Homo sapiens: one gene and its partner. The protein of the gene in region 2 purifies or fractionates together with the protein of the main gene of each other region. This does not show direct contact. Each region holds a gene or a part of one and is shown on either strand. Other genes may lie near its edges.

Region 1 (4,541 bases), on a different chromosome or scaffold from region 2:
TACTCAGTTATGAAATCATTCTCACCACCACCACCACCCCCCTTCATCTGTTATGGTGACATCTCCAAGTAATGTTTAAAACCAAAGAGTACATTTTATTTTAAAATTAAAGAGTTCAGTAGCTAAAAAAGCAGCAGTACCCCCTGTTCGGAATGCCTTGGAATCTACTTTCCCCAGTTTAAATAGTTGGAAAGTCACCATGAACCTCGGATGCTCTTCTTGGCAGTAGAGAAAAACTGCCGTAACCACAGCTCAGAAATATACACACCCCTCAATGGAACTGGCTTCTTGCCTTCTGTTGTGAGCATACATCACAAGTCAAAATGAATTAAATACAAATCCAGTTTGCAATGGTCCGTCACTAAGCTGCCTCCCAGGAGCGAGCCGGCAGCATGTGGGTTGGAAGGGGGCCCACAGCGTTCCCTGCGCTGTCTTGAATTGGACTGCAGTCTGTCTGACAAACCAGCCCCACAAGGGAGTCCACAGCCTGGTGGCTCTTTGACTGGGATGGGGTAGGGGGTTGCCTTGAGCAACTGTGGAAGCCTAGCCAGGGGCCCAGAAGCACAGGCCTCCTCAATCCAGGCCTCTACAGTCAATCAAATGTCAAGGAATCGTCACCAGAAGAAACTTTTCATAGGTAAATAGAAGCAGGGCCGAGAGCTGACAGTGGGGATTTTCCAAAGAAATGGAAACAAACGTACACAGGCCACTCACCAGAGACTATAGCCAGCAAGAAACAGGAAACGTATCAGGTTAATATTTTAATCTGTACATCACATTTTTTTTGCAAACCATTACATTTTTAAATTAACTTTTTCTTGCAAAATATTCATTTCATTTTTTCCAAGAAAATCTTATAAAGGCAAAAATAAAATTTTATTTTGGCAAATGTCATGAAGTCGATACTGGCAGCATATGGAGTTAGTTAAAAATAGACAACAACTGCTAGATATATTCAAAATTCTATTTTTTTTTCTGAGCATAGTCAAAGAGAAATTTTCATTTAAAGTGTGGCTCCACCCAATGGAGGTTTTCGTTGTTGTTGTTTTTTCCATTTAAACGTCATTGTTTATATGCAGAATAATATAAGAAAACAACTTAAATAAAGGGCCACAAACACTGCACCTGGCTTGGTAGCCCCCCTCCTCATGTGGGGCTGGAAGTCAAATCAAAGTCCTGCCATTATGGCCCTGCTGGCGGCAGGCCATGAGGGATGGTGGGGGCACACTGCTGCCCTCCTGCCACCAGACCTGAGTCCCAGGGAAGCCAATCCGGGGTTCTCCAAGGGCAGGCAGCAAAGGTTCCCATCATGGCCTGGTTAGAGGGAAGGGATTTCTAGGTAGATGTCACCCAGTGTGGAGTTTATTGCTACGATACAATGAAAGTTGCTTCCTCTCACCTTTTCTGTATTTCAATGTGTACTGTTAAAAATGAAAGCAGGCTGGGCGTGGTGGCTCACGGCTGTAATCCCAACACTTTGGGATGCTGAAGCGGATGAATCACCTGAGGTCAGGAGTTCGAGACCAACCTCACCAACATGAAGAAACCCCCGTCTCTACTAAAAATACAAAATTAGCCGGGCGTGGTGGCACATGCCTGTAATCCTAGCTACTTGGGAGGCTGAGGCAGGAGAATCACTTGAACCCAGGAGGCAGAGGTTGCAGTGAACCGAGATCGTGCCATTGCACTCCAGCCTGGGCAACAAGAGTGAAACTCCATCTCAAAAAAAAAAAAAGATAGCAAACTGCTTTTTTCTTTCTGACAAGAGCCTTTTGCTGGAGGAAGCCTGGGGGCAGGTTGTGGGCCCCAGTCCTCTTGAACACACTGTTGCCCCTAAGCCAAACCCAAGGGGCAAGGCACAGACTTGGGCTCCACGTGTGATCCTCGTGGAGTTTCACACAGAGCTGGTCATCAGGTCAGGGACAGCTGATCTCTGCAGCCAAGGGCCCCTCTTCTCCCAGACAGCACGCCAACCAGCCTCTTGCTGGAGTCTACTGGGAACACCTCTTTAAATCTCACTTTCTCCTGAGGTCATTGGAAGTTGGACTAGCCTCGGCTTGCCCCGCCCTTCCTGCCCCCACAACACCTGTCACCCAGAAGTACCTGAATCTGTACGTGCAGCTGCAAAGTCCTGCATCCTCAACCTTCCTGCCACTCAGCCCTTGAGGGGAACATTAGAAAATAGATTCCGATTCTAAAATACAGTGTATTTTACAGTGTATATCAAAAGTGCCTTTGCCATTCATATGTAGAGAGGAGTCTGAGCTAAACTAGTGGGTGCATATTAGGGCCTGGCCTGTGGTGAACACCCGCAGTCGGTAAGCTGCTCCTTCCTCCGGCCGGATTCCCTGCTCAGCTGGAAGGGGTTTCCTTGGGGGCAGAAAGGTCATCTCCTTGGAGGAAGCTGGTTCCACTGGGCCCCTGGCTCCAGGCTTCTTTGCATGCTGGGTCACGGGTCAGTCACTGCCTGGGCTGGCAAAAAGCACAGGAGACAGTGAGAGGCTGGCATCCAGGGAGCAGGCACGTCTGCACACACATGATGGAATGGCAGATAGGCGGACAGGCAGAGCAGCAGAGCAGGGGGCTCTGGCAATGCGGCCGCTGCTGGGGGACCCTCAGCTTCCAGGACACATGGGGCTCTTGCCCCACCCTCCCTGCACCCCTATTCCACTGCTAGACACATGCTGGCCCCTAAATTGGGTCCCCATCCCGACAGGGCAAAGACTCTAATAAAGGTGCAGTCTGGCCCTGCCCTTCATTCTTTCAATGTGGGTAGCGCTCTTGGCCTCTGTGGGCCTTGTTTTTCTAACCTAAAAAACATGGTGGTCATACCCACTTCTTAACAAGGATGCTTTGAGAGTAAGAAGAAATGCAGTACTCCAAAGAGTATAATAGGCCAATCTTACAGCCATGGGGGCACCAAAACCCAGGAGGAACAGAACCTCTCTCCTGCCTCTCTGTGACTGAGCGCTGTTACTGTGCTCAGATCTCTAGGAGAAAGCCACACCCTCAAATGTGGCCTTCACAATGGGCGTGGCTAGAGCACTTCCCTATGGCTCCTCAACCACGGGGCCTCTACTCCACACCTCCTCAGAGCCTGGCCCAAGGAGGCTGACCTCTTCCTCTCATGCTCAGGCTGGCGGGGACCTGCTGACTCTGCTGTGAGGCACGGGGAGCACCCAGGATAGACACCTGCCAAAAAATCATGCTTCGCTCCCTGCAGCACAAATACTCTCTCCCTCCTTTCACTTCTTTCTCCAAACACCTAGAGCTGCTCGGGGCGGCCCAGATGAACCCATGAGTGGTGATGGGGAACAAAGGCTCTGAACTCACATCAAAGGGGTTCAAACCCCAGCACTTAACAAGCTGCGATTCCTTGCGCATATCCCTCAAGGCCTCTGAGCTTTTGTTTTTTCATCTCTAAAACGGGGAGGGGGGGGGGAATATCTTCATAGGGTTGTTGTGTGGATCGAAAGAGATACTTAGCACAATGCCTGGCACACAGCAGGCACTCAACAATGTTAACCACAAGTATACGTAAAGGAAGGAGAGGGGAAAGCCCTGCAAAATGATAGTGGGATGGGATGTCAGGGTAAGGACTGCCCAGACTGGTAGTCTGACCTTCCCCTGTCCAGGTGAACCGCTGGGCTCAAAAGCAACAGGCCCAGGCCAAGAACTCACTTGAGACTGGACCAGATGCCAGCCTCCTGTTTCAGGGCTCCCTCCTCATCCCACACTGCCTCTCATCACTAGATGCCCACATGGGGAGAACTTGGTAGGGTTGGTGCCAGAGCTTTCTGCCTGGCTGAGGGCCAATTTCACATTGCCCTGGGCTTCCCTTTCTCTCCCTCTTAAAGTGCCCAGTGACCAAAAGGGCAGTCCCAGTCTCTGCGCTGACACCAATTCTTTGTGACCTGGAGTGAGCCCCAGCCCCTCACTGGGCCTCAGTTTCCTCATCTGTAGAACTGGACTTTTCCCAATCTTACAGTTCTTCAATTTCTTTGGCCAAAGCCCTGAAAGGCCAAGATCTAACTCTTCCTTTCCAGCCCCCCAAGGCTGGCAGTGTGGTCTGCACTGGTTCTCGGGCATCAGGGTGCCCTACTGAGGAGAGCAGGGGATGGGGGCACAGTTCCGGTTCTAGAGATTTCATGGAGGCAGCAGGGTGGATTGCTCAGTCCCTATCGTATTAGAGCCACTGAGGATTGAGTTCCTAAAAAGCATCACTTTCCCACCTGCCTACCAGTCAGAACAGTCCCGCCAGCGGCCGCTTTGCCAGTGGAAGGAGGCATCAGCAGGTGGCACTGCAATCACCTCAGCACAGCAGGGAGGTGAGGGGCTCAGCGCTAGGGAGGTGCAGGAAGCAGGCAGAAGCACACCAGACAGGGGCTCTTACTTGGAAGGTGTTAGACAAAGGTGTAGTGGAGTCCGTTGGTAAAAGGGGGGTAAGGTGGCACCGTCCTGGAAGACAGGGGGCCTTTAGGCGGGAGGAGGGCCAGCTGCTGTGCTAGATGGGGCACACAGGAATTAAGCGGTGTGTTAGA
Region 2 (8,066 bases):
ATTTCTGGGCAAAGGAATTAGACCCTCATCCCCACCAATTTTTTTTTAAACTTCTGGCCCCAAAACCAGTCTCGAATATAACTTCATGAAAACTAACACACTTAAAATTACACATGATGAGCATAATCATTTGAAAGCCTTTTCTGTTTTGATTTGTTTTTTATCCCATACCCATAGTGTCCCAAGAACAGAGTCATGTACAATCTGGTTTCAGCAAAGGACTAAAGAAATTTGCATACCCACAGTTATACTTCATGCAACTTGCCTCCTACTAAATTAACTTGGTAGCAATCTAACTAGTTATTTATTCTGCACTGTAAGTACTGATAATGCCACTAACCCTTGCATTTCACATTTATTACTTCAAATTCCTATAACAATCTGATAAGATTGGTACTACTGTCTGTCACTTTACATTTTAATAGACTAAGTATCAAAATATTTGTCCAAGGTTGCTAGGCTAGTTAGAGATAAAGCCTGGGAATTGGAAACATATACCTGACTCAAAAGCTCTTTGTCCAGGAGTCCTCAATGGCTAGTCCCAGCCCTCTTGCATGAGGCCCAAAATCACACTTGCCCATAACAGAATTAATCATAAATTCAGTCATAGTGAATTCACTTCATTACTTTTTGTAAATAACGAATACTAACAATTCTAAATGAAACTTCATCTACTCTACTTTCTGAATCACCCACAAAGTATTAAACCATAAAAATTAGTCATTTCTATAATTCCTTTGAGTATATCCATTTTCATGTCTATTCTCCTGAGGGAAAAAAAAAAAAAGACCTTACCGATAGCATATGCTTCTCTGCTCCCAACAAACTCTCCTTTTGAGTTTTACTCTATCACTTCAGAACTTCAATTCTATGCCACAGCAGTTCCTGAACTTCAGTGGCAATCATATCAGGATTTTTCTCTTACAGTGGCTTAAGTGACTATGTTACACTGTGTTTTGTACAAGATACAGGTGACTTCTAGATCTCATCTAGCTCTAAAATGCTGCACGAGTGTAGGATTCAAAGCAAATCTAGAAAATATTCTTAGAATATGGAGTCGGATGTTGTTTTCTACGGGCCATACCATTACTACTTATTTTATAAGCCATTTTATCTTAACAATTTTCTGAAGTTTTTTAATGTTTCCATTCCCACTAACAATTTCATGTCTTGTAAACTGTTCAAACCAGTAATATATGTACTATTTTGTATCTTTGCTAATATCACTTAGAAAAAATTAGAACCTGATAAGCTCAAGTTTCATAAATAATGTAAACACAAGATAAAATGTCACAGTGCCAGGCTGAGACAGGAGAATGGCGCGAACCTGGGAGGCGGAGCTTGCAGTGAGCCGAGATCGCACCACTGCACTCCAGCCTGGATGACAGAGCGAGACTCTGTCTCAAAAAAAAAAAAAAAAAAAAGTTACAGTGCCAAGATAACTGCCTTATGAGTTAAAACTTTTAAATGAATTCTGCAGTCTCTAATAAGAGTTCACTCAGTATTAAGCCATCCACATAGTAAATAACAATACTGCTTAATTTTTACAATAATACTGTATGTCCTTGTGAATGTCTGAATAGAAATATATTAACTATCGGCCAGGCGCGGTGGCTCACGCCTGTAATTCCAGCACTTTGGGAAGCCGAGGCGGGAGCATCACGAGGTCAGGAGATCAAGACCATCCTGGTCAACGTAGTTAAACCTCGTCTCTACTAAAAATGCAAAAATTACCCGGGCGTGGTGGCGCGCGCCTGTGACCCAGCTACTCGGGATGCTGAGGCAGGAGAATCGCTTGAAACTGGGAGGCAGAGGCTGCAGTGAGCCGAGATCGCGCCACTGCACTCCAGCCAGGCGACAGAGCAAGACTCCGTCTCAAAAAAAAAAAAAAAGAAAATTAAAGAAAAGAAATACATTAACTATCAATAGCAAGTAGAAACCAGTGTAGGGATTGTAAATGATTATACTGCTACTCTTCAGTATAATCAACACACATTGCAGGCCTCCTCTTTAGGGGTATTCCACAAGTTACCAAACTTCCAATATTTTAACGTGATTTTAGGAAAAACTCCATTTCTTACATTAGGAGACATAAATCTCCATAAGACTGGTTTCTATACAACTGCAATAACGTTGTAAATTATCTAAGTTTTGATTTGGGGGAAGAGGAAAAACCCTAAGAACGAAGTACCATGGTTTTCTGTGTTAAATTCTAGAAAGCTATCAAATGTTTAGGATTAAAGCACTACAGTAGACATTTTTTATCACTATGGTTCTAAGACATTAAAATACTTTTAAAATGCTGGTTGAAAATCATATTCTCAAGCACAGAAAAATTAACTGTATTCCAGAGCATTTCCTTGTTTATCTCCTTACCAAGCCTAAAACTCAACTAATCCTTCTTTCAAACAGCTGGCAAACTCCCTTTTCTGAGAGGAGTGACTCATAAGTTATAGGAAATCCACAAAAACTACGATTTTTTCCCCCAACAAACTTAATAACAGGCACAGAAGGGGCGGGGGGGGGGGGGGGCGGAAGGCCAGAAAGAGAACAGACAGAGAAGAGCATTCAGTCTGTTTACTCCAAGGGCGTCACACCGTGCCAATATCCAGAGCTTCCTAAAAGCAAATGTTCAAACTGCAGTTTCTGGACACACTGTCCTAGAAGTTGAACAGATCCTTCAAGCCCATGCACCAAGAAATTCTGAAAATAAATAACTAGGTACTGCAAACCTACTGCACTCCCATCACAGAAATCTTTCAAATTACAAATCCCCTAATTAGGCGCGGAAAAGAACACCGCACTCTTCCCTAAGAAAACCGACACCTCGTTGACCAAAGAGAAAGGAAAGCAAGTTCATCTCCAACATCCAAACCACAAAGCCAGGTTTCTACTAAATAAAGTCCTCAAATACACTCTAATCTGAGATGAGGTAAGGAAGGCTGTGTAATGGTTCTCCTTGCCTGTTGGGAGGGGCAAAGGTTGGCATTCTAGGACAGCAGCTACTCTGCCACATGGGCCTGGTCCTCGGTAATTCCAAGCGTCCCTTCTGCCTCTCCCTTCCCAGAGCAGATGCTTCACCAGCTCCAAAATCCGCCCGACGTTCTTGCCGCCTGGAGGCCCCCACGTTCCCCTCCAGGCTTGGCCTCCCACGCTCGCCCTCGTTCCTGCGACTCTCGGTCCCCGTCGACACCAAAGGAGGAGGCCGCCAAGGCATCCCCGCTGCAAGCCCGCTACCCGCCGACTCACCTGGTCCCCCCTACGTTCAGTTGGACGATCTCGCCGCTGCCGGCCGCCGCCGCGGGGAAGCTGCCGCAGTGCCCTCCCGCCATCTCCGGCGGCTCCGGACGCGCTCGCCGCCCTCCTTCCCCAGCCGGGACCGCCGAGCCCGGGGCTGTAGCCCGAGGCAGCGGCGACGGCTGCAGGGCCAGCGGGGCGGCGGCGGCCGGAGGGCGGGGGGTGCACGGGGCTTCCCCCACCTTCCCGGCGGCCGGGCGGGGCTCGCTAGCTTCTGCCCCTTCCCGGGTCAATCCTGCGGTGCACAAGGGCGGCCCGGCCTCCACCTTTCGCGGCCTCCAGGCCGCCGGGCCGCCCGGGCCTCTTCTCCGTGCTCCGCTGCCACCGACGCCGCCGCAGCCTGCCTGGGAGGAGGGGTCACCGTTCGGGACAAAATACCGCAGCGCTCACGCTTCGCCCGCCACTGCCGCCTAGAATGAGGAGGAGGAGGAGGAAGGAAAGGTCAGGGAGGAGCTTCCCAACGCCGCGGGGCTGGCGCGTAGGGAGGCTAGGGGAATGTGCTCCTGGCCAGCCGCCTGCCCACGCGGGATTCCATTTCGTTCCTCCTCCCCACGCGATCCCAGCCCCTTTCCCTTTTACATTTCAGATTTTCTAAAACGAGGAAGCTGATTCGCAGATTGAGGGCAGATCTGGGCAAACGATCTACGGATCTTTATGACCCACTTTGTCAACATGGATTGGGAAAGGAAAAACTAATCCTAGAGGTAGTAAAAGTTGATGCCTAAATGTAGACAGTGCAAATGCAGGGAACATTTGGAGATTTTAAAACCTTACAGCGTTTACCCCAGAAAACTGCTTACTTTACCCTCTTCAATTTAATCCCCAATCTCCCAAGCAGTTTTTTTGTTTTGTTTTTTGCTTTTGTTTGTTAAGCAGGAAGGAAACCAAAGGACAAAAACCCCTAGACTGTGTAATGCCCAGCAACCTATTTCTGGAATATAGTAAGCACTCAACTAATGTTAGACACACGCAGAAAACACACAATTTTATGCGCTTGTTTATTTATTTGTTTTTGCTTTAAACGGTATCTATTCAAACCCAAAACCTTAGTGGCTATTAAAATATTTTTTAAATCGGAATACTATAATACTTGATGCCCTGCTAACAAAGACTAACAAAGATAGTGCGTTATGTTTCAGAGGTCATTAGTTTGTGGTACTAAATTCTTAACATGAATTGTTTTGTCATAGTTGTATCATAATAATTCAAACTGATAATGTATCTGATGTTAAGTTTTTATTGTCATTGTCATAATTTTTACCAAAAAAATAAAAAATAGCCTCTGGCAAGCATACTAATGTTGTGATATGCTCTATCTAGATTCGACTTGAAAGATGTTAATAGTACATATGGATGTAAGATAAGTATTATTTCTCCCAGTTGATGATAAGCTTAATAATAGCTAATTTGTGTTTATCATATACCCGGTGGTTTAGATATTTTGTCATCTTTCTTCGTCACAACTAATGTTATAATTATTTTTAAAAAAGGAAATTTGGGAATGAAAATGATCAAAAAAACTTGCTCAAAATTACATAGGTAGCAAGTGGGATGGCAGGAATTTCAAGGCAAGCAGCTTGAATTCAAGGCCACTGTTCACCATCCTTACCACTGCATTGTACCTCATTATCTTCACTTTAGACAGGGAAGATGAGTAACAGTTCAGATTAAAGCAGCAGCAACTAGGAATCTAAACCAGGGTGTCCAATCTTTTGGCTTTCCTGGGCCACATTGGAAGATGAATTGTCTTTGGCCACACATAAAATACACTAACACTAACGATAACTGATGAGCTGAAAAAAAGAAAGAAAGAAAGAAAGAAAGTTTATGAATTTGTGTTGGGCCACATTCAAAGCTTTCCTGGGCTGCATGCGACCCATGGGGCTGCAGGTTGGACAAGCTTGCTTTAAACAATGTTAACTGCCTTTGCCCTAACACATAATATCTGGTTCTATCAGGATCTGAAACTTTGCTTTAAAATTTGCAGCGAAGATTTAAGTGGTAAAAGGGCCATTTAATTTTCCTTAGGTCCAAACCTTGGAAGAATATGAAAGAATAGTTGCTAACAGCCTTTGAATCCAAGAGGCAAGTTGGAGTTAGAATAAGGCCTTATAAATTTAAAAATATATATATTTGTGAAAGGCTTCTTATTTTTCCTGAAATAAATGAAACCGTGTTCATTTTATTATACTGTACTTAAAAATTAGGAGAACATCTCTTCAAGAGAAGGAAAAGTTCTCAGTATTTTATAAGACAAATGGTCATGACTTCTTGATATGTCCAGAACAATATAGAGATATCTGAGGCATTTCTTGCTCATAAAACTTAAAGTTAGGGTGTGACTTAATTTTTAAGAATAAATTGGAACACCATTAACAAAAACAAATAGCAGAATGAGAAAAGATATTTGCAACATATATCAAATGATTGAAAATATATAATATCTGATCATATATGTATATATTATTCTACAAATAAATTGAGAAAACAAGTAATGAAAAATATGGAAAGAATATCAACAGCCAATTGATAAAAACACTAAAATGCTTATTAAAACAACAGAAAGCTGGGTGTAGTGGCTCACACCTGTAATCTCAGCACTTCGGGAGGCCGAAGTGGGTGGATCACGAGGTCAGGGGTTCGCGACCAGCCTGGCCAATATGGTGAAACCCCGTCTCTGCTAAAAATACAAAAATTAGCCAGGCGTGGTGGTGCGCGCCTGTAGTCCCAGCTACTGGGGAGGCTGAGGCAGGAGAATCGCTTGAATCTGGGAGGCAGAGGTTGCAGTGAGCTGAGATCGCACCACTGCACTCCAGCTGGGACGACAGAACGAGACTCCATCTCAAAATAAATACATAAATACATAAATAAATGAATAAAACAAAAAATGTATTTTTACTCATGAGATTAGCAAAAATTAAGAGAGGTTTGATAAAATTCAAGGACAGTGAGAGTGTGAAATGATCATACTCATGCATTGCTGATTAAATTATGAATGGGTACAGAGTTTCTGGAGGGCACCTCAAGAATATCAGCATTTTAAATGTAAATACCCTAGACCCAGCACTTTTCTTCTAAAAATATATCCTATACACATTTTGCTCAATTGGCAAAGGTACATGCAAAGAAGTAAGTGCATATTCATGGTAGTAGTGTTATAATAGCAAAAACATGGAATATTCAACAACAAGGGAATAATTTTTAAAATTATGTTGGAAGCTATTACTATTTTGGGGGCAAATTCATGTGAACTGACCAGAAATGATCTCCAAGTATATGATTTAGTGGGGAAAATAATCAGATTACAGAATAATACATTATGAGTACAATCTCATTCATTTAAATAATGGAAAAACTAAAATCATGTGTATATCCACTTATATTTCTATATAAAAATACATATTAAACTACGAAGAAACATAACCTCTAGACAGATCATTAGAATCAGTGAGGAGAAGGTAGCAGTGGTGAATGGACAAAACCTTTTACCCCTATGGTCTTTCATATTGTTTAACTGTTTACAGTGAGTTTTCTTTCATGTACTACCTGTATGTATGTATGAATGTGTAAATAAATAGAGTAGATACATTCAAGGTTGTCCCCATGACAGCTTTTTAAAGTTTATGTTATTTTAATATTTAGGCAATACAAAGTAAATAAAACATTATTTAAATAATATTACCTTCTTTAGTGACTATATTGAATTTGTGATGTCTACTCGACCAGTCCTTGTCAAACTATCTCAGGTAAGAACTAGTTCAATTTCCAATTTATGGGGTGATTTAGTCAGGACTCTCTAGAGGGACAGAACTAATGGAATATATATATGTTTTATAATATATGTATTTATAAATATATATTATATATATGGAATATATATATGTATATTCCATTAGTTCTGTGATGGGTAAACTCCCCTTTATATATATATAGCTCGGGCGGGCACTGTGGCTCACACCTATAATCCCAGCACTTGGGATGCCAAAGTGTGCGGATCACCTGAGGTCAGGAGTTCGAGACCAGCCTAGCCACATGGTGAAACCTTGTCTCTACTAAAAACACAAAAATTAGCCAGGCGTGATGGCACGCTCCTGTAATCCCAAGTACTCGGGAGGCTGAGGCAGGAGAATCACTTGAGCCTGGGAGATGGAGGTTGCAGTGAGCTGGGATTGCAGCACTGCACTCCAGCCTGGGTGACAAGGCAAGAGTCCATCTCAGAAAAAAAAAAAAAAGTTTCCAACCTCTTAGTCTCATTTTTGTGCTTATTTAATTGCAGACTATTCACAGTTTGTGGATGGGCATCAATTCATGAACCACACTTAAGTGGCCACACTTAAAGTAGTGTTTATTATCACTTAAGTAGCACACTTAAAGTAGCATTTACTTGAAGTGTGGTTATACTAAAAGTAGTACACTAAAAGTAGTAACCACACTTAAAGTAGCGTTGTATTAGATATCCAAGTAAGATGTTGAGTAAGCTGTTGTATAAAGGACCTAGAAGTTTCAGAAAGAGAACTAAGCTAAAAATTCTCTTATTTTTACTGAAATAAAACTTTGGGAATGAGTAGTATATAGATGGCTGTTAGAGCCATGAGACTGCCTAAAATCATAAGGAGGTGAGTGTAGAATGAGACAAAAATAGAAATCAGAATGGAGCCCTTGACTATCCAATATTAAGAGACTGGGGAGGAGTTCCAGTGAAGGAAACTAGAAAGGAGTTTCAGCCAGATGGGAGGAAAACCAAGGGAGCATGGGGTCCTATGAGATCA

Evidence for each region.
Region 1: the proteins of KCTD3 (region 2) and PLEKHA7 purify together in Homo sapiens (affinity purification with mass spectrometry; 2 studies listed by BioGRID and IntAct, with this or other methods). This does not show direct contact.

The regions. Positions count from the first base shown.
Region 1 is NC_000011.10:16,776,549-16,781,089, forward strand, and holds the end of PLEKHA7 (pleckstrin homology domain-containing family A member 7), read right to left. Parts: intron 4,505-4,541; coding exon of another isoform or gene 4,404-4,504; exon of another isoform or gene 4,394-4,403; intron 2,473-4,393; coding exon 2,450-2,472; 3' UTR 749-2,449; downstream 1-748. UniProt on the Homo sapiens protein: Required for zonula adherens biogenesis and maintenance. Acts via its interaction with CAMSAP3, which anchors microtubules at their minus-ends to zonula adherens, leading to the recruitment of KIFC3 kinesin to the junctional site.
Region 2 is NC_000001.11:215,562,952-215,571,017, reverse strand, and holds the start of KCTD3 (BTB/POZ domain-containing protein KCTD3), read right to left. Parts: upstream 3,715-8,066; 5' UTR 3,333-3,714; coding exon 3,250-3,332; intron 1-3,249. UniProt on the Homo sapiens protein: Accessory subunit of potassium/sodium hyperpolarization-activated cyclic nucleotide-gated channel 3 (HCN3) up-regulating its cell-surface expression and current density without affecting its voltage dependence and kinetics.